Linked DNA regions of Homo sapiens: region 1 is linked to region 2. Evidence: fine-mapped expression QTL. Tissue or cell type: whole blood. Region 2 holds a variant in brackets; the other region holds the start of a gene. All regions are shown on one strand. Distances are between the middles of the regions. Region 1 holds the start of ZYG11B (zyg-11 family member B, cell cycle regulator). Region 2 has its middle 6.4 kb from the start of COA7.

Region 1 (11,193 bases), 22 kb before region 2:
CCTGTAGTCCCAGCTGCTTGAGTTGGATGAGGCGGGAGGATGGCTTGGGCCTGGGAGGTCGAGACTGCAGCAAGCCGTGGTTGCACCACTGAACTCCAGCCTGGGTGACAGAGTGAGATCCTGTCTCAAAAATAAATAAATAAATAAAAGCTATTAGTGTTGCTGCTTAACCATCCCATCTAAAATAGTTGCCCTCTCACACACACACAATATCACTTTATATCTTAGCCTGGTTTATTTTTTCTTAGTATTTATTATATAACTATTGTCATTATACATTTATAGGTGTATTTATTGTGTATCCCCTCCCTGTACCCCATGTCTTTTTTTCACTTCTGTAATCACAGTGCCTAGAACATCACCTAGCCCTTAGGAGCTGGTCAAAAATCATCTCTTTATCAATGATTTTTATATTCTGGACATGGAAAGAGACTCTAATCAAATAATTACAGTAAGAAATATAAAATTCCTGTTGCTATGTATTCTATGAAAAAGTGCTACATAATAAAGAGGAGAGTGACCTAGGTTTTTTGGACAGCGTTTCCCTGAGTTCCTTGAATGGAGAACTCCAGGATATGTTAGAGTTAGGCAGGCAAGAGAGAGTATCACCACAGGTCATTTGCACATGCTGCTCCTTCTGTCTGGACTCTTTTTTTTTTTTTTCTTTTTTTTTGAGATGGAGCCTCACTCTGTTGCCCAGGCTGGAGTGCAGTGGCACAATCGCAGCTCACACTGCAGCCTCCACCTCCCGGGTTCAAGCAATTCTCCTGCCTCAGCCTCCCGAGTAGCTGGGATTACAGGCACCTGCCACCATGCACAGCTTATTTTTGCATTTTTAGTAGAGACGGGGTTTCTCCATATTGGTCAGGCTGGTCTTGAACTCCTGACCTCAGGTGATTCACCCACCTCGGCCTCCCAAACTGCTGGGATTACAGGCATGAGCCACTGCACCCAGCCTATCTGGACTATTCTTTACATAACTCCTACAATTTAATCCCTCAGTTCTCTACTTGAAAGTAAGACCCTCTGCAAAGCTACTCCTAACTATTCCATTCCATTATTCCACAACTTCTCTTTTCTTTCCTTTCTATTTTTTTTTTTTTTTAATGAGGTCTCGCTCTGTTGCCCAGGCTGGAGTGCAGTGGCATGATCATAACTCAATGCAGCCTTGAACTGCTGGGCTCAAGTGAGCCTCCCACCTCAGGCTTTAGAGCAGATGGTACTACAGGCATGCACCACCATGCCCAGCTATCAACTTGTCCTTTTTCAGCACACTCAAGATATATTAAAACTCTTCACATTTAAAATTACTGTATGAAGGCTGGATGCAGTGGCTTGTGCCTGTAATCCCAGCACTTTGGGAGGCCAAAGCGGGAAGATCCCTGGAGGCCAGAAGTTTGGTACCAGCCTGGCCAACACAGGGAGATCTCTTCTCTACACAAAAACAAAAAATCAGCTGCACATAATAGAGCACACTTGAAGTCCTAGCTTTACTTGGGAGGCTGAGCTGGAAGGACTGCTTGAGCCTAGGGGTTTGAGGCTGCAATGAGCCGTAATCACGCCGCTGCACTCCAGTCTAGGCGGCAGAGCCAGACCCTATCTCAAAATAAATAAATAAATACATAATAAAATAAAATTACTCTATATACATGAGATGAAAAATGCCAGAGGTCACATCTATTTTACTATCTGTCATTTCCCCAGTGTCAACACAGTCAAAGACACTCCAAAAACATTATTAGATTAATTAAAAGTAAGGACTATGTCTTAGACCAGTAGTTCTCAAATTGTGGTTCACAGACCAGCAGCATCAGCATTATGTGGGTTTTGACAGAAATGCAAACTTTTGTAGTAGTTCACGTCTATAATTCCAGCACTCTGGGAGGCTGAGGCAGGAGGATCACTGGAGCCCAGGAGTTTGAGGCCAGCCTAGGCAACATGGCGAAACCCCATCTCTGCAAAACATATAAAAATTAGCCAGGTGTGATGATGGGCACCTGTGGTCCCAGCTACTTGGGAGGCTGAGGTGAGAGGATCGCTTGAGCCTGGGAAGTCAAGGCTGCAGTGAGCTGTGATCATGCCACTGCACTTCAGCTTAGGGACAGAGCAAGACCCTGCCTCAAAAAAAAAAGAACTGCCACCTCTCAGGCCCTGCCCTCAGTTCACTGCAACCTCCACCTCCTGGGTTCAAGTGATTCTCCTACCTCAGCCTCCCGAGTAGCTGGGATTACAGGCATGTGCCACCACACCCAGCTAATTTTTGTATTTTTAGTAGAGACGAGGCTTTGCCATGTTGGCCAGGCTGGTCTCGAACTCCTGACATCTTAAACATCTCAACTATTCAAACACAACCTAATTAACATTTAACAAATATAAAATACAAAGCTTTATAATAATCATTCATTCAACTGTATTTATTATCTACAAAAATATTGCACGAGAAAGTGGCCTCTACTGATAATTCCTAGCTCAAAATAAGCTAATATTCTGCCTTCTCCTCACCTCTCCCATACATACACTGTTACTCTGTGTGTATATGTTTTAACAAGCAAGGAAAAATCAAGTTAATTAGATGCAAAGTTTAAAACATAATCATGCCTAATATGTCTGCTGTGGTCTGAATTCTGTCTCCCTAAATTCATATGTTGGAATCCTAACCCCCAAGGTAATGGTATGAGGAGGTGGGGCCTTTGGGAGGTGATTAGATCACCAGTTAGTGCCCACATGAATGGGATTAGTGCCCTTATAAAAGAGACTCCAGAGAGCTGCCTGGCCCCTGCCACCATGTGTGAAAACAGTGAAAAGGTGACTTAGGAAGAGCCCTCACGAGACACTGAATCCACTGGGGAACTGATTTTGGACTTCCCAGCCTTCCAAACTCTGAGAAATAAATTTCTGTTGCTGACAAGCTACCTAGTTTATGGTATTTTGTTACAGTAGATTGAATGGGCTAAGACAGTATCTTGCTAGCCTCATTTCCTACTACACATCTCCATTCTTGCATCCTTCCATGCTATATAAGGGTAATACTACTTCCTACAATGCATCCTAATTCCTTCCTACTTTCTTTCTTAAAAAAAAAAAAATCCCTGTGAGGGGATCCTTTCTACTTGCTACTCACATTCACAATGAGGCATTCTTCCCCTTCCCAAAATGATCTATATAAATCCTATTCAACTTTCAGGCCCAGCTCAAAGGACACTTTTAGATCCTAAATACCTCAAAGGGGAGTTCATAACTCCTCCCTCTCATACATTCATTCTCAATGGAAGGGCCCACACTTTCAAAAATCTAGCAGTGTAATGTCTTAGGTAGGATAGCTCTTTATTCTGAAAAGTATATCATCATACCTCACTCAATATCATTTTTGCATCAAAATTAAGATTCTCTGCCCAGGCGTGATGGCTCATGCCTGTAATTCTAGCACTTTGGGAGGCCAAGGTGGGAGGATGGCTTGAATCCAGGAGGTCAAGACCAGACTGGGCAACACAGCAAGACTCCATTTCTACAAAAAGTTTTACAAATTAGCGGGGCACGGTAGTCCGTGCCTGTGGTACCAGCTACTTGTGAGGCTGAGGTGGGAAGATCACTTGACCTCAGGAGTTCAAGGTTGCAAAGAGCCATGATTGTGCCACTGCATTCCAGCCTGGGCCACAGAGCAAGATCGTCTCCAAACAACAATTCTCAAACTCACTCTTTCTGTGTAGTCCACTAGTTACCTCAAATTTCAGTTTAAGTTTATATTAGTCAGGTGGGAAATGAGACCATAAAGTGAATCATTCAAGCACCTAGCTGGCCTGGGCACTTGGAATAATAAGTAAGGAACGGTTGCTACCTAGAACTTACATTCCACAGGGAGAAACAGGTTAGCATACAACAACAGTGTGTGAAAGTGAAGGAGACAAACACAGGAAAATGACAGACTAAAAATGCAGGAGTGAGTTAGGGAAAATTCATAGATTAAATAATTTTATAGTATATTACTTTTCTAAAAAACTGCTGGAGGGAAAAAAAGAAACTGACTAACCTCCTAGGGGAACATAATTATCAGGACTTAGTTTTGCCTTATTCCTCCCAGAGACCAAAATTTAGCTTGTTGCATATGATGGAGCAATGTTTTCAATAAATGTACAGCAAACCACTTATAACCCAACTCAATGAAAAAACCAACTGAAGCCTCAACCTATTTTCAGACAGAAAGAAAATTTGCAAATATAAGGTTCTCCCAACTAAAGGCAGACAGGGCAAAACAAATGAACTCTTTAGAAGGTTTAAAGAGACTGTCACAACCTGCCAACCTGATTGTCAGTCCTCAAATGCCCTTGGTCTCTGCCTCCAAATGAAAACAAATCATTTGTTTTTAGTAATAATAGCCAAGCTTGTAAATAAGTATTTTTAAACTTCTCCAACTGCACCTCCACATTAAAAGATGCTCAAAATAAAAAAAATTCAAAACATTTTTTAGCTATTTCTGTCAAAAGACTAGATCTCTCCTGAGGTCACAGTATGCATGCTGGCCCTCACTTCACTGCTCTGTAACACACCACCACTTCGATTTTGCAATGACACTAGGTGAATAGGCTTCCAGGATCTCTTCAATGCCTCCAAAAACGAAAAGGAAGAAGCAAACCTATAAATCCCTATCTGCCCGCCCTACAGCTCCCGGGAAGCAACAGTCCTCAAATTGTTCCTGCTTAGACCCCTGAAGCCCGTAGAAGGAAATGGGGACAGCTGCGACGGCGAACCGAGCGAGGACATCCGATAAGGGAAGAGGAAACGTGGATGGAAGAGGACGAAGGGGAGAAGGAACACGGAGAGAAGGGGGCAGTGGAGATAAAATGGTGAAGAGGGGTGAGAAGAGCAAGGAAGAGCAGCGAAAACTAGGGAGGAAAGGGGGGAAAGTAAAAATCACATAAGAGGAAAAAAGGCAAAATGATAGAGGAGAAAGAAAGGAAGGGTTAGGGTTAAAGGACAAGGAGTGGGCGACAAAGGGAATGCGAAAAAGGCTGTCACTGGGGGTGATAAAAAGGATGTCATCGGGGAGAAGGGAGATTCAGGGGGTGTCACCTAAAGGGGTTCACCGAAGCAGGTGAATGGGGAAGGAGGAGCTGAACACCGAGGGGGCGGTAACGAGGGAGAGAGGTAAAGGCAGGGAGCCCGAGGGGACACCAGAGACAGGGAGGGGCAAGACCGCAGGGGCCAGCGCGACGGGCGGGGGCTAGGGTGGCGGGCGGCTGCGGCTAGGGCAGGCCTTGCTCCCTCACCATGGCTGCGCCGGCCTGGTCCTCGGGCATGCAGCCTCCGTCCTGGGTGCGGCGGCGGGCCGGACCGGAGCCCGCCCCCAGGCTGAGCCGGCGCGGAGGCTCCAGGAGGCTCCGGCGAGCGGCGGCTCCGGGCTTGGCCCAGGCCTCGGCCTCTTTCCCTCAAGCTAGGAGCGTAGCAGTAGCAGCCGCAGCCGCAGCCGCAGCCGCAGCCCGAACCAGAGCGCAGACTCCGCCCCCGCGAGGACCCGCCCGGGCGCGCGAGCCCGCGCCTGGACCCGCCTCCGCTCTCAATGCGCAGACTCAGACGAGGGGGTCCCGCCCCCCCCAGCCCGACCTCCAGCTTCTCCCCCTCCCAGGCCCTTAAAGGAGCCACACACCCCCAAATCCTAGCATCCCTTCAAAATATGAAAAGCTTTAAATATTACATCATGACGAGAGATTAGAGCATCGCTCACTTCGGTCACCTATAGACTCCTCTGTCATTCACCATCATTCTCTAAGATTTGGGCTTCTGGTTCACTGTCATTCATTACTACTATTGTCATAACTCTTGGTTATTTCAAAATTCGCTTAATTCTTCCAATCCTCTGGCCTCTCAGATTCTTCTCTAGGGATCATTCTTGGCTCAGCCTCTCACTCTCATGCTCATACGAATAATTGTAACTTCTCTACAATCTCAATTTTAATCCTCTAACTCCCATTGCAACCTTCTTCCTTTCTTTCTTTCTTTCTTTCTTTCTTTTTTTTTTTTTTTTTTGAGATGGAGTTTCGCTCTTGTTGCCCAGGCTGGAGTGCAGTGGTGCGATCTTGGCTCACTGCAACCTCCACCTCCCGGGTTCAAGTGATTCTCCTGCCTTAGCCTCCCGAGTAGCTGGGATTACAAACACCCGGCACCACACCCGGCTAATTTTTGTATTTTTAGTAGAGAAGTGGCTTCACCATGTTGGCCAGGCTGGTCTCGAACTCCTGACCTCAGGTGATCCGCTTGCCTTGGCCTTCCAAAGTGCTGGGATTACAGGCGTGAGCCGCTGCGCCCGGCCACAACCTTCTTCCTTTCTAGCTCACTCTGTCTGATAATACTCCAACTCCAAAAACTTCAACTCCAAGACCCCAAATCCATTGATCCAACTACCTTTTCGCTATTCCTCCCCACGCTGGCCTTATGTACTCACTTTCTTCCTGAAACAGCTTAGATTCTATCGTCCGTCATGAAATGGAATCTAATAGAATCTAAGCTGTTTGGGGAAGAAAGTGAGTACATGAGGTACATGAAGTCGATTTCTTCAGTATTACCTTCATTTCTCTAGTCGTTCTCTGCTTTCTTTGTACTGACAGAACTCCAGCAATGGAGTGGGTGGAGAAAAAGCCAAAAGTGGTTGACTGACTCCCCGTAAATTTGAGATCATTATTCTCAAGAGGCCATAATGAGTGGCTACCCTACCACATTTCTCCAGTTTCACACACTCTCCCACCTTGCTACATAACTATTTCAAGTCTCCTGTCTCTTCAAACCTCCGACACTTCCTCCCTCATCTCATTTAGCTGATGATTTTGCTTCTAATTCACAAGAAAATCAAACAAACCAAAAAGAACATCTACAAGTTCCCAGCACCCACCATGACTTCCAACGAACCTGTAACTCTGCTTTGATGCTCTCTCTGCCTTCCTTTCCTTACTACAAGTTAATTATTTGTCTTTTAGCTAACATCAAATCCTCCTCAGTTCTCAAGCATCTGTGCTAAAAGACCCAGATTTTATCCCCAATCACAAAACTAAATTTCTGTAAAATACAATCAAAATTAATTACTAGAAAAAATTAAAATTTAAAAACAAGCATCCAAAATGCAAGCCCAGATTTTTTAAACCTGCTTAACCATTTTAAAGTGTACAGTTCAATGGTATTAAATACATTCACATTGTTGTGCAACCATCCCCATCAAGAAGCTCCAGAACTTTTTATTTTTTCTTTTATTTATTTATTTATTTATTTATTGAGACAAGTTCTTACCCTGTCACCCATCAGGAGTACAGTGGCACAATCACGGCTCACTCAGCCTCAAACTCCTGGGCTGAAGCGATCCTCCCACCTCAGCCTCCTAAGCAGCTAGAACTACAGGCACATACCACCACGCCTGGCTACCTTTTTTTTTTTTTTTTTTTGTAGAGACAAGGTCTCACTGTGTTGCCCAGGTTTGTCTCAAACTCCTAGGCTCAAGTAATCCTCCTGCCACAGACTTCTAAAGTGCTAGGATTACAGACGTGAGCCAATGTGCCAGGCCTCCAGAACTTTTTTATCTTGCAAAGCTGAAAGCTTGTACTCATTAAACAATAACTCCCCATTCCTAACTTCCCCCAATCCCTCGCCATCACTGTTCTGCTTTCTATCTCTATGAATTTGACTACTCTAGGCAGAATTTTTATTATTAAACCCAACACGCGTAACATTTTTCTGTCAAATTGTTATAAAAGTTTCAAAATATTAATTCTGAATTGCTGTCACAAACTGGTGAAAAACCATTTCTAGATGGTCACTAGTCCATTGATGACACTTTGAGGAGCTCAAGTACTAGGTCTCATACCACGTCACTTTCTCAAAGACACCTATCCAGCAATTCTTCCTCTCACCTACATCGCTATTTTTCTGCTATTACCTCTCATTGCTATAGCAACATGATTTTATTTCTTCCATCTTAAAACAATCAAACAAAAAAACCCTCCTTAGGTTGCAGTGAGCCAAGATCACGCCACTGCACTCTAGCCTGGGCAACAGAGCGAGACTCCACCTCAAAAAAAAAAAAAAAACCCTCTCTTGACTGGACTTGACCCCCCACCTACTGCCCCATTTCTCCATTCTCTTTTCTGCAAAATGTCTCACAAAGGTGGCTTGTACATGGTCTCACTCTGTTGCTTAGGCTGGAGTGCAGTGGTGCGATCTCAGCTCACTGCAACCTTAGCCTCCTGGGTTCAAGCAATCCTCCCACTTCAGCCTCCCAAGTAGCTGGAACTACAGGCATGTGCCACCACGTCCAACTAATTTTTGTATTTTTTGTGGAGATGAGGTTTCATCATGTTGCCTAGGCTGGTCTTGAACTCCTGAGCTCAAGCAATCTGCCTGCCTTGGCCTCCCAAAATGCTGAGATTACAGGCATGAGCCACCTCGCCTGGCCTTGACTTCCTTTTTCTCATTTTCGGTGAGATCCTCTCTGGTTAAGCTTTTACCTCCTCCACTCCACTGAAATGCCCTTGTCAAGGTCACTAGTGGTGTCCATTTGCTGACACCAGTCAATTCTCAGTCCTCGTGTTACTTGACCTACCAACATCACTAGACACAGCTCATTACTTCCCCCTCCTTGGCTACCATGACATTTCACCCCCTCGGGTCTTCTATCTCACTGGCTGCTCCTAGTTTCTCCTCATTTCTCTGACCTCTAAATACTGTAGTACCCCAAGGCTCAATATTTCGACTTTTTGTCTTTTGCATGTACACTCCTTGATAATCTTATCCCAACACATTACTTTAAATATTATCTATGCTGTGATAACCCCAAAATTATATCTGCATTCTGAATTTCATACTTAAATATCTAACTGCCAGCTAAACATATCCCCTTATATGTCTAGTAAGCTACAATTTTTCTTAGTAGTTACTCAATAGACTTCCCCTCAAGTACCATGGATAAGCCAATAAATACCAAAGAGAATAGGACCAACAATAGTAGCTTAGACCAATCATGATTTACTCTCCGTCTGATCTGTGAGTTACTTTCCCTAAGGACTTCCTTGTAGTGGAGGAAAATCGTCATTAAAAATTAGAGTTCTGGGCTGGGTGTGGTGGCTCAGGCCTGTAATCCCAGCATTTTAGGAGGCTGAGGTGGGTGGATCATGAGGTTAGGAGATCAAGACCAGCCCGGCCAACATGGTGAAACTCCATCTCTACTAAAAATACAAAAGAAATTAGCTGGGTGTAGCGGTGCGCACCTGTAGTCCCAGCTACTCAGGAAGCTGAGGCAGGAGACTCGCTTGAACCCGGCAGGCGGAAGTTGCAGTGAGCCAAGATCACTCCATTGCACTCCAGCCTGGGCGACAGAGAGGGACTCCTTCTCAAAAAAAAAAAAAAAAAAAAAGAAAGAAAAAAAAATTAGAGTTCTAGCCAGCCAAGGTGGTTCACACTTGTAATCCCAGCACTTTGGGAGGCCAAGGCAGGCAGATGGTTTGAGACCAAAAGTTTGAGACCAGCCTGGGCAAAATGGCAAAATCCCATCTCTACAAAAAAATACCAAAAAGTAGCTGGGCATGGTGGTAGTTTCAGCTACTCAAGAGACTGAGGTGGGAGGATCACCTGAGCCCTGGAGGTCGAGGCTGCTATGAGGCATCATCACGCCACTGCACTCCAGCCTGTGTGACAGAGTAAGACCCTATCTCCAAAAATAAATAAATAAATAAGAGTTCTGCAATCAAGAAAGAATGGAGTCACAGTTGATTTGCTTGATTTGCAATCAATGAAGCACAAACAGATCAAAAATACATCCAAATTACCTAGGAATTTAGTATAATACTGAAGGTAGCATTTCAAGTCAGAAAGCAAAAGTTGGAATTGTATTTGGTGTTAGAATAACTGGATAGACATCTAGAAAATTTTAACTTGGATTTATACTTCACACTATTCACCAAGACAAATTTCAAATATATCAAATATTAAAATGTAAAAAAGAAGAACGAGCATGGTGGCTCACGCCTGTAATTCCAGCACTTTGGGAGGCCCAGGCAGGCAGATCACTTGAAGTCGAGTTCAAGACCACCCTGGCCAAGATGGTGAAACCCCATCTCTACTAAAAATACAAAATTAGGCCGGGCACAGTGGCTTCCAGCACTTTGAGAGGTCAAGGCAGGTGGATCACAAGGTCAGGAGTTCAAGACCAGCCTGACCTAGATGGTGAAACTCCGTCTCTATTAAAACTACAAAAATTACAGGCAACGGCTGTAATCCCAGCTACTCCGGTGGCTGAGACAAGAGAATCGCTTGAACCTGGGTGGCAGAGATTGCAGTGAGCCAAGATCGAGCCACTGCACTCCAGCCTGGATGACCGAGTGAGACTCCGTCTCAAAAAAAAAAAAAAAAAAAAAGCCGGGCACAGTGGCTCCCGCTTGTAATCCCAGCACTTTGGGAGGCCGAGGTGGGCAGATCATGAGGTCAGGAGATCGAGACCATCCTGGCTAACACGGTGAAACCCCGTCTCTACTAAAAATACAAAAAATTAGCCGGGCGCAGTGGCGGACGCCTGCAGTCCCAGCTACTCGGGAGGCTGAGGCAGGAGAATGGCGTGAACCCGGCAGGCGGAGCTTGCAGTGAGCCGAGATCGCGCCACTGCACTTCAGCCTGGGCAACAGAGCGAGACTCTGTCTCAAAAAAAAAAAAAAAAAAAAAAAAAGTAAAAAAGAAAGAAGCGCCGGGCGCGGTGGCTCACGCCTGTAATCCCAGCACTTTGGGAGGCCGAGGCGGGTGGATCACGAGGTCAGGAGATCGAGACCATCCTGGCTAACAAGGTGAAACCCCGTCTCTACTAAAAATACAAAAAATTAGCCGGGCGCGGTGGCGGGCGCCTGTAGTCCCAGCTACTCGGGAGGCTGAGGCAGGAGAATGGCGTGAACCCGGGAAGCAGAGCTTGCAGTGAGCCGAGATTGCGCCACTGCAGTCCGCAGTCCGGCCTGGGCGACAGAGCGAGACTCCGTCACAAAAAAAAAAAAAAAAAAAAAGAAAAAAAAAAAGAAAGAAGGAAACCATAACATACTGGAAGAAAGAATCATGGGAGAATTTTTTAGAATCTTAAAGTAAGGAAGGTCTTCTTAAGTACAAAACAAGAGCTGGGCACGGTGGCTCATGCCTGTAATCCCAGCACTTTGGGAGGCTGAGGTGGGCACATCATGAGGT
Region 2 (10,599 bases):
GTTACTATATATTTATACTATTACATATAGAAGGCTCTTAAAATAGGACCTGGCAAGGCCAGCCACAGTGGCTTAGTTATATAATTCCAGAACTTGGGAGGCCAAGGAGGGTGGATTACTTGAGGCCAGGAGTTCAAGACCAGCCTGGCCAACAGGGCCAAACCCCATCTCTACTAAAAATACAAAAATTAGCCAGGCGTTGTGGTGCACACTTGTAGTCCCAGCTACCCAGGAGGCTGAGGCAGGAGAATTGCTTGCGCCCCCGAGGCAGAGGTTGCAGTGAGCAGAGATCGTGCCACTGCACTCCAACCTGGGCGACAGAGCAAGACTCCATCTCAAAAAATAAAAAAAAAAAAAGAAAGAAAAAAATAGGACTTGGCAAGATATAACTGTTATATAAGCATTGGCTATTATTATAAAATCCTCCTGCAAATCCTGCAAGCTAGACATTATTTTTTTGGGGGGTGGGGAATGGAGCAATCCTTTATTTTTACACACTTTGACAAGGAGGTTTTCTGTAAACAACCTTTCCAGTGGAGAACAGAGAACAGGAAAATCAGCCTCCAGACATCAGCAGCTGCTCTGTTCAGGGCCAAGGCTCTGCATTGTCCACATGGTGAGGTGGAGGGGTGTACTTCCCTTCCTTTATCAGCTTATCCCGCTGCTTCCTAATGGTACTCAGACGTCTCATCGTTTTCTGCTAAAGTATACACTCTACAAAATCATCATATTCTATCTTGCACTCCTTCTCTGCCTGGATACTAACGATTCCATGTGCACATTCTATCCATTCTTTTTGAAAAGCCTGGCATCGAGCAGGAATCTTGTAGGGCTGTTCAGCACTTTGGATTGTCCACCATCAATCTATGTTAAGGCTGAACCTTTTCAGCACATCCAAGAAAGGCATGGCGATCCAATGCTTATGCCCTTGTCTCTTTTCTGGCCCCCACCCCCCCACTTTTTTTTTTTTTTTCTGAGACAGGGTTGAGTCTCACTCTGTTACCCAGGCTAGAGTGCAGTGGCATGATCTTGGCTCACCGCAACCTCTGCCTCCTGGGTTCAAGTGATTCTCCTGCCTCAGCCTCCCGAGTAGCTGGGACTACAGGTGTGTGCCACCATGCCTGGCTAATTTTTGTATTTTTAGTAGAGACGGGGTTTGGCCATGTTGGCCAGGCTGGTCTCAAACTCCTGAACTCAGGTGATCCGCCCACCTCGGCCTCCCAAAGTGCTGGGATTACAGGCATGAGCCACCACACCCGGCCCAGGGGACTCTTCTATAAGAGGGTGCTGTGTCCATCTCCTACAGATTATGCATCTACCAGGAACAATGTATGTGTGTTTTGGAATGGTGATAAAATTATACTTCCCTAGTCATTCTCACCTGTCATCTACTATTCACTGTTCTAGCCTTTTCCTAGGAGGTCAGATGCTTGTAAATAATTTATTCTCCAACAAAAAGAGCCTTTCCTAAACTAGGAATTCCTTGGCAGTGTGGGAGTAAATTCCCTAACTGATGATAACTCTTTTACTGCACATTCTTTTCACTGGGCATGTGCTCAATAAATACCTCTCCTTTGTGTCATGCTGTGTGCTGGACACTGAGGACACAGAAATAGATAAAACCCAGGCCCTGCCCTCAAGGTACTCAAGTCTAGTAGGAAGGGAAGGAAGACAACAGAAAAAGAACATGGTAAGTACTCTTATAAAAAGAAGCATGTTTGTGTGTGGTGGCTCATGCCTGTAGTTTCAGTTACTCAGGAAGCCGAGGCGGGAGGATAGACTGAGTCCAGGAGTTTGAGGCTGCAGTGCACTATGGTCATGCCTGTAAAATAGCCACTGCACTCTAGCCTGGGCAACGTAGTGAAACCCTGTCTCAAAAAAGAAAAAAAAAAAAAAGGAAGCAGAGCACTTGCTAAAGCACAGAGGCAACCAGCCTGGTGGTGGGGGCAGTCAGTGGTCAGAGCAGGCTTCCTGAAACAGGCACTACTTGACCTGGGTTGTTGTTGTTGTTGTTGTTGGTTTTTTTTTTTTTTTTGAGACGGAGTTTCGCTCTTGTTGCCCAGGCTGGAGTGCAATGGCACAATCTCAGCTCACCACAACCTCCGCCTTCTGGGTTCAAGCGATTGTCCTGCCTCAGCCTCCCAAGTAGCTGGGATTATGGGCATGTGCCACCATGCCCTGCTAATTTTGTATTTTTAGTAGAGACAAGGTTTCTCCATGTTGGTCAGGCTGGTCTCGAACTCCCAACCTCAGGTGACCTGCCCGCTTCGGCCTCCCAAAGTGCTGGGATTACAGGCGTGCGCCACCGTGCCTGGCCTTGACCTGGGTTTTGAAGGAAAAATAATTACCTTAATTAACGGAGAGGGAAGAGCATTCTAGGCATAGGGAATCACATGTGTGAAGGCACTGGAACGTGAAAGCAGGTGATGTTTATAGGGTCAACAAATAATTTGGGATGAGGTTCAAAGAGTGTGTATGGGAGGGAAGAGAACAAGCTGGAAAGGCAGGCTGGGGCGGATAGCAAGGTTTGTGGCCAAAGGTTAGGGGCGTAGACTTTAATGCCATGTGACATTTAGTTCCAGTTCTCTACTGGCACAACTGCTTTTTTCTGACAGTCAGTATTTGGTTACATTTAGAAGTCCAGATTAGTTTTTTCACTCAACAACATGGGCTGAGCACCTCACTGTGTCAGTTTTTATGTGCAGGCAGGAGGGCTCAGGAATAGACTTTTGGGGTCACAGCCTGAAATCTTGTGAGCTTTTTTTAGAAGGCAGTAAATCTCACCCCTGACTTGAGATGATTTGTCCTAAAACCTGATCCCTTCCTTGTCCTTGGTGTTGCAACCCTTCTTCCTCATTTGGATTTCCATGAGCATGCTGCAGTGAGCTGGGTCCACACACACATTATGGGAATGGCTATAATCAGAAGCCGAGCCAGCCAGCTTAGGTGGTGAACACATGCCCGTTGTGCTCTGGCACGTGAGTCTCATGAATGAGATGGAGCAGGCAGAGAATATCAGGTCCCTACTCTTTGGGATTTCATAGTCTTAAAAGCAGAAAGTTGGCCGGGCGCGGGGGCTCATGCCTGTAATCCCAGCACTTTGGGAGGCTGATGCAGGTGGATCGTGAGGTCAGGAGTTCAAGACCAGCCTGGCCAAGATGGTGAAACCCCCCTCTCTACTAAAAAAAAATACAAAAAAATTAGCCGGGCGTGGTGGTGGGTGTCTGTAATCCCAGCTACTCAGGAGGCTGAGGTAGAGAACTGCTTGAACCCAGGAGGTGGAGGTTGCAGTGAGCCGAGATCGCGCCACTGCACTCCAGGCTGGGGGCCAGAATGAGACTCCATCTCAAAAAAAAAGAAAAAAAAAATTAGATCTGGAGGCATTGTTATAAGTTATTAACCACATAGCATAAACGGAGCACTTACAAAGTGCTTCACTCTGTGTTGGGACCTGGAAGGCAAATAAAGAAATCATATTTGGTTCCTATCCTTAAGGTGCTCCCAGTCTGGTAAAACAGGCGATGACCACAGTGCTTCAGGAAGTGGAGGAGCCCTCAGCTGGCTAACCACAGCCCACTGTCAACCAGTAGGGGTTAGGAAGGCATCCTAGACAAGGACTGGTGGTCGGGCAACATAGTTTGAACTGACACTGGAGAGACGTGGAAAGAGCAGCCCACACAGACAAAACAGCCTGAGGAGTTCAGAGAAGAGGAGTGGGTCAGAGGGATTGGTTTGTCTAGTATAGGTGGGGAAGTAGCAAGTGGAGTGGTTGGCGGGGGCCAGATGGGAGGGCCTGGAATGCTGAGCTAAGGATGCGGGCATTGTGGAGCCTTTGGTTTCCAAATGGGGGTGACACAGCTCTTTTAGAAAGACAAGTCCCTTTCATTCCTGGGCTCAGTGCGCTCACCTGTAAAATGAGGGAGTTGAAGATTATTTTCAAAATCATTCCAGTGCATGTATCCTGTGATTTACAGCATTGCTTCTTAAAGTTTATTGTGTATCTGTGTCACCTGGGGATCTCAGTAAAATGCATATTCTGGCCAGGCAGTGTGGCTCACACCTGTAGTCCCAGCTATTTGGGAAGCTGAGGTGGGAGGATTGCTTGAGCCCAGCCTGGGCAACATAATGAGACCCCAGTCTCTAAAAATAATAATAATTTTAGGCCGGGTGCGGTGGCTTATACCTGTAATCCCAGCAGTTTGGGAGCCCAAGGCAAGTGGATCACCTGAGATCAGGAGTTTGAGACCACCCTGGCCAACATGGTGAAACTCTGTCCCTACTAAAAATACAAAAATTAGCTGGGCGTGGTGGCACATGCCTGTAATCCCAGCTACTCAGGAGGCTGAGGCAGGAGAATCACTTGAACCTGGGAGGCGGAGGTTGCAGTAAGCCAAGATTGTGCCATTGCACTCCAGCCTAGGTGAGAAGAGCAAAACTCCATCTCAAGAAAATAATAATAACTTTTAAAATGCATATTTTGGTTCAGTAGGTGTGGTGGGGGTCCCAAGGTTCTCCATGTCTACTAGGATCTCAAATGATATGGATGCTGCTGTTCCTCAAGCCACACTTTGAGTAGCAAGGATTTAGTTCTTGGGTACTCAAAGTGTAGTCTGAGGTCCAGCCTTTGTAAGTCATACAATGTTCTATAAGTTATCTCATTAGGGCCAGGCGCGGAGGCTCACACCTGCAATCTCAGCACTTTGGGAGGCCAAGGCGGGTGGATCACCTGAGGTCAGGAGTTTGAGACCAGCCTGACCAACATAGAGAAACCCTGTCTCTACTAAAAATACAAAATTAGCCGGTGTGGTGGCGCATGCCTGTAATCCCAGCTACTCAGGAGGCTGAGGCAGGAGAATCACTTGAACCCAGGAGGCAGAGGTTGCAGTGTGTCAAGATCGCGCCATTGCACTCCAGCCTGGGCAACAAGAGCAAAACTCCGCCCCCCCCCCCCCCCCGAAAAAAAGTTATCTCATTAGAAATAGTGTGCTACCTAATTTTTACAGTGTTTTAAGGTTTGCAAAGAGATATACAAACCTTATTTCCTTCACTGCTTTCAGCAGTTCTTCTTGAGAGGTAATTTTTTTTTTTTCTGAGACAGGGTCTCACTCTGTCATCCCACCTGGAGTGCAGTGGCAAAATCATGGCTCACTGAAGTCTCAAATTCCTGGGCACAATCAGTCCTTCCGCCTCAGCCTCCCAAGTAGCTAAGACTACAAGCACATGCTGCCACACCTGGCTAATGTTTTTATTTTTTGTAGAGACGGGGTCTCTTTATGTTACCCAGGCTGGTCTTAAACTCCTAGGCTCAAGGGATCCTCTCACCTTGTCCTCCCAAAGTGCTGAAATTACAGGCATGAGCCACAGCACCTGGCCAAGACAACATTTTCATGGTTATGTAAAACACCCTTTAAACTTCGGTATTGAGGTTGGTTTGTCTTTTCCCAGCATCAAGGTGGGGTAGAGATTGGGAGTCCCATTTTACAGATGAGAAGACTGAGGATATAAAAAGAGAATAAAAGAGAATGGATTTAGCCAAAGCTGAACAAACACTATGGAAGTGGCAGAACAGTAATTAGTATTGAAACCTCTATTCCAGTGCTTATTTCCAGCAAATGTCTTTTTTTATTTTTATTTTTTATTTTTTGAGATGGAGTCTCACTCTGTCGCCCAGGCTGGAGTGCAGTGGCACGATCTTGGCTCACTGCAACCTCTGCCTCCCGGTTTCAAGTGATTCTCTGCCTCAGCCTCCCAAGTAGCTGGGATTACAGGCACATGCCACCACGCCCAGCAAATTTTTTTGTATTTTTAGTAGAGACGGGGTTTCACCATCTTGGCCAGGCTGATCTTTAACTCCTGACCTCATGATCCACCTGCCTCGGCCTCCCAAAGTGCTGGGATTACAGGCATGAGCCATTATGCCCGGCCTTTTTAAAATTTAATTTAATTTTATTCTTTGTCTTTTTTGAGATGGAGTTTCATTCTTGTTGCCCAGGCTGGAGTACAATGGCACGATCTCAACTCACTGCAACCTCTGCCTCCCCAGTTCAAGTGATTCTCCTGCCTCAGCCTCTCACGTAGCTGGGATTACATGCACCCGCCACCATGCCCAGCTAATTTTTGTATTTTTGGTAGAGACAGGGTTTCACCATGTTGGCCAGGCTGGTCTCGAACTCCTGACCTCAGGTGATCTATCCACCTCAGCTTCCCAAAGTGCTGGGATTATAGGTGTGAGCTACCACACCGGCCTCCTGGCCCTTTTTTTTGAGAGAGAATCTCACTCTGTCACCCAGGCTGGAGTGCAGTGGTGTGATCTCTTCTTACTGCAACCTCTGCCTCTTGGGGTCAAGCAATTCTCCTGCCTCAGCCTCGCAAGTAGCTGGGACTACAGGTGCCTGCCCAGAGGGAAGAGTATGACGCTGTCACTAACTTGCTGCGTATCCTGGGACAAGCCCCTTTCCTCTCCGGACCTTGGTCCTTTTCCCTGTAAAGCAGGTGCCTGTCCAGCTTAAAGCACAGCCCGGGAGCCTCAGAGACAGGCAGGAAGTCAAGGTTGCAATAATTCGGGTTTCCGAAAGCTTTGCGCTTGCCCTAGGCCCGACAGGTCACGTGGGGACTACGTGATGTGCAATCGCCGCTGTTGAAACAAGAGCATGTGCAGGGCTGGCAGCTGTCACGGCCTTTCTATATCTTG[G/T]GGGGATGGGGAGTGATGAGGTGAGGAAGGGCTGCAGGCTCTACGGGCACGGGCTTGAGGGGGTTGACTGGCCAAAGCAGGAAGGGCAGGGCGTCTCCACGGCTAACCCACAAAATGCTGAGAGTCCCGAGGGGATCTGCAGAGGACGGCGAGCTGGGCAGCCCCCGAGCAAGCCACCTGGAACCTCCCTCAGCTGCACCAGCCACTCAGAAAGATCGGGTCCGTTTAGACACGAGCACCAATCTCAGGCCTCCAAAGTGACCTCACAGCAAACGTGATTGGTCCGGTCTCTCTCACGGGGCGGCTCCTTTACCAACGTGTAACCCTTTGGGAGAGGTTTAGCGGGCTGTGTGACCTGGTGGAAATCACTTTACTTATCTGGACCTCCTTTATAAAAAGGAGGTATTAAGACCTATCCCGAGGCCTGGAGCGGTGGCTCACGCCTGTAATCCCAACGCGTTGGGAGGCCGAGAATGGATAATCTTTCTAACAAATGGTGCTAGAGTAATTATAAACCCACATGCAATAAAGTGAACCTCAACTGTTATCTCATACCTCATACAAAAATTAATCTGAAATGGATCATAGGCTTTCTAAATATAAGATTTAAACCATAAAATTTCTACAAGAAAATATAGGATAAAATCTTAGTGACTTTGGGTTTGGCAAAGACTTCTTGAATACGAAAGAAAAAGCACAAACTATTAACAAGAGGAAAAAAATCAATAAACTAGACACACCATTAAAATGAAAAACTTTTGGTTTTGAAAGACACTGTTATAAAAACAAAAAAGGCAGGCCAAACTGGGAGAAAATATATGCAAAACTTCTGATAACGGACTTGAATATATAAATAACTCTTAGAATGCAATAATAAAAAACAATCCAATAAAAAGGGGGCGAAAGATTTTAACAAACATGTCATCAAAGATACACAGATGGCAGATAAGCACATGAAAAGATGCCAACATTATTGGTCACTCAAAAAAATACAAACTAAACCTATGATAAGATACTGTTATATTCACTATAATGGCTAAAATTTTAAAAGACTGACCACACATCAAATTATGGTGAGGATGTAGGGCAACTAGAACTGTCAAACACTGCTGGTAAGAATGTAATGGTAGAATCACTTTAGAAAACAGTTTGGGTGTTTCTTAAAGTTAGATATATACCTACCATATGATCTAGCCATTCCACTCCTAGGTATGAACCCCAAAAATGGAAATGAATGCCCATACAAAGACACGTACACAAATATTCACAGCAGCTTTATTTGTAAGCCAAAAACTGGAAACCCAAATGGATAAACAAATTGTGATATATCTACATCATGAAATGTCATTCACTAAGAAAAAGAATGAACTATTAATACGTGTGGTAACATGGATGAATCTCAAAATAATTATGCTGAATCGAAGAAACTATACAAAAAGAAACAGTACTTACTGTATCATTCTATTTAGATAATATCCTACAAAATGCAACCCATCTTCAGTGACAGAAAGCAGATTAATGGTTGCTGGGGAGGGAATGAAGTACAAAGTCACATGAGGAAATTTTGAGGTGATGAATATGCTCATTATCTTGATTGTGATAATGGTTTACAGGTGTATACATATGTAGAAACTCATAATTGTTACTTTAAAGTTATGTGCAGTTTCCTGTATGTCAATTAGACCTTCATTTAATGTTTCTTATAGCTTTAAGAAAAACCTGGGTCAAAAGAGCAAGAGTCAGTGATATTCTAAGTTCCATTAATGAAAACCAAATTATTTGGAATGATAATCCCTCTTCTTAATTCAGTCAACAATACTTGGGCACCTAATATTGCTGGGCACAATCAAGACACTGTTATTATAACAAGAATGAGCTAAGACCACATGGACGATGTCAAATTGAAGCAGAGAACTTAAGAAGGCAAGCCAAAAAAAAAAAAAAAATACAGGGGAAAAGCACTCTAGGGCAGAGGCAACAGTTAGTTCAAACGGATCACGAGGTCAGGAGTTCGAGACCAGCCTGGCCGATATGGTGAAACCCCATCTCTACTAAAAATACAAAAATTAGGCGGGCATTGTGGTGGGCGCCTGTAATCCCAGCTATTCAGGAGGCTGAGGCAGGAGAATTGCTTGAAACCGTAAGGCGGAGGTTGCGGTGAGCCAAAATCACGCCACTGCACTCTAGCCTGGATGAAAGAGCAAAACAAAAAAAAGTGACCTCTTACTTGGTTGAGCCTCTCATCACCAACTAACTCTCTTGTGCCCTCTACCGCTCAGGTGATCTCATTTCAATGCAGTTCAACTCAGAAAATAAAGGGAAACATTCCCAGATTTTAGTAATCGACATCACCCTGCTCTATTCTATCATCAAGCCCTATTCTATTCTTGGCCCTGTGACCAGCATACAGGACACAGAGGTCACAGTCTGGTGGGGAACACAGACTTTCATGCCATTATTGGCATGACAAGAAACATTCCTGGAACAGGAATGACTTTGAGCCAGGCGCTCTGCCAAGCACATTGCATACATGAACTTGTAGTCCTTCTGACAGCCATTACAAATGGATCTGCATTTACAGAAGAGGATTCAGACTCACAAACATGATTGGTTTAAGGTTACAATTTAATAAACATGGAACATGGATTCTGAACTAAGATCTGTCCCCACTCCAAAGCCAGTTCTTTCTTTCCTACTACACTATACCAGAATAAACCAAGTGGTGTGGAACACCAAAATGGGAGCATCTAAATCTAATTTGAATGTGTGTAATTGTTGTGTCTGGGAAGACTTTACATAGGAGAGTATTTCCGATTTGTGTCAAAAAGGGTGGTCCAGGCATCAAGAGCAGAGGTAAACAGGGACACAAACTTGGGATCTATTCAGAGAACAGAAGGTTGGTGGGATGTGGGGGAAGAGAGGCAGAAAATAAGGCTAGAATCAGATTGCACAGGGTCTTGAAGGCCATCCTAAAGAAGATGACCTCAAACCAAAGTTCAAGGATTCCCATCCTGGGCCATGTGTACTGAGGAGTCCCCTAAGGTGATCAGGGTATAAGAAACCACAGGTAAATGTGGTATATTGCCTGGAATGTCAATTTTACTCAAAGGCTTGGGGGAGAAAAGGCAATCTTCTGTTATCCTATGAAAGATGTATTATGGGGAAATGAATGTAAAATCCTATGAATTTAAAAAATAAAACTGGGATTTCAGACATTATTGGCTGCCTTCCAATAAATAAGTGGTTGGAAATAGTCCATTCTTTGCTGCCATTGGGGATAGCTTAATAATGGAGCCATTTGGAAAGCATTGTTATAGGCGATGGGAAGCCATGGATTTAGCTCCATTGAGAATTCAAAAGTAGGGCTGGATGGAATTCAAAGATGAATGGGAAGTCAGCCGGGTGTGGTGGCTCACGCCTGTAATCCCAGCACTTTGGGAGGCCGAGGCCAGCGGACCACCTGAGGTCAGGAGTTCAAGACCAGCCTGGCCAATATAGTGAAACCCTGTCTCTACTAAAAATACAAAAAAAATTAGCCGGGCGTGGTGGTGGGCACCTGTAAGCCCAGCTACTCGGGAGGCTGAGGCAAGAGAATCGCTTGAACCTGGGAGGCGGAGGTTGCAGTAAGCTGAGACCGCGCTATTGCACTTCAGCCTGGGCAACAAGAACGAAACTCCGTCTCAAAAAAAAAAAAAAAAAAGACGAATAGGAAGTGGCTGTCTTAGGAGAACTTTCCATCTAAGCTTTATGGAACTGATGATTCTTAGCAGGAACAGGAGCAGGAAAACAAAGCAAAATGTAGGTAAATTTCCTCTCCTCCTCCCCATCTCCTTGACATGTTCCTTTTCTACCTCATTCATTCTTTTTCGCTCTTGTCGCCCAGGCTGGAATGCAATGGCACAATTTCG

What was found. PIP is the estimated chance that this variant, and not a neighbour inherited with it, causes the effect.
Region 1: it holds the start of ZYG11B, and the variant in region 2 is fine-mapped to the expression of ZYG11B in whole blood (TOPMed, PIP 0.96).

Annotation. Positions count from the first base shown.
Region 1 is chr1:52,720,755-52,731,947 of GRCh38, reverse strand. ZYG11B (zyg-11 family member B, cell cycle regulator) reads right to left here and starts at 5,495. Exons shown (of 14, transcript NM_024646.3): 1 at 5,265-5,495. The coding sequence starts at 5,294. RefSeq lists a silencer at 5,105-5,684.
Region 2 is chr1:52,699,430-52,710,028 of GRCh38, reverse strand. It overlaps the pseudogene NDUFS5P3. Among named protein-coding and RNA genes, the nearest start is that of COA7, 6.4 kb to the right of the region's middle. RefSeq lists enhancers at 6,069-6,609, 6,604-6,903, 6,610-7,151. The variant G/T (reference allele first, on the strand shown) is at 6,692.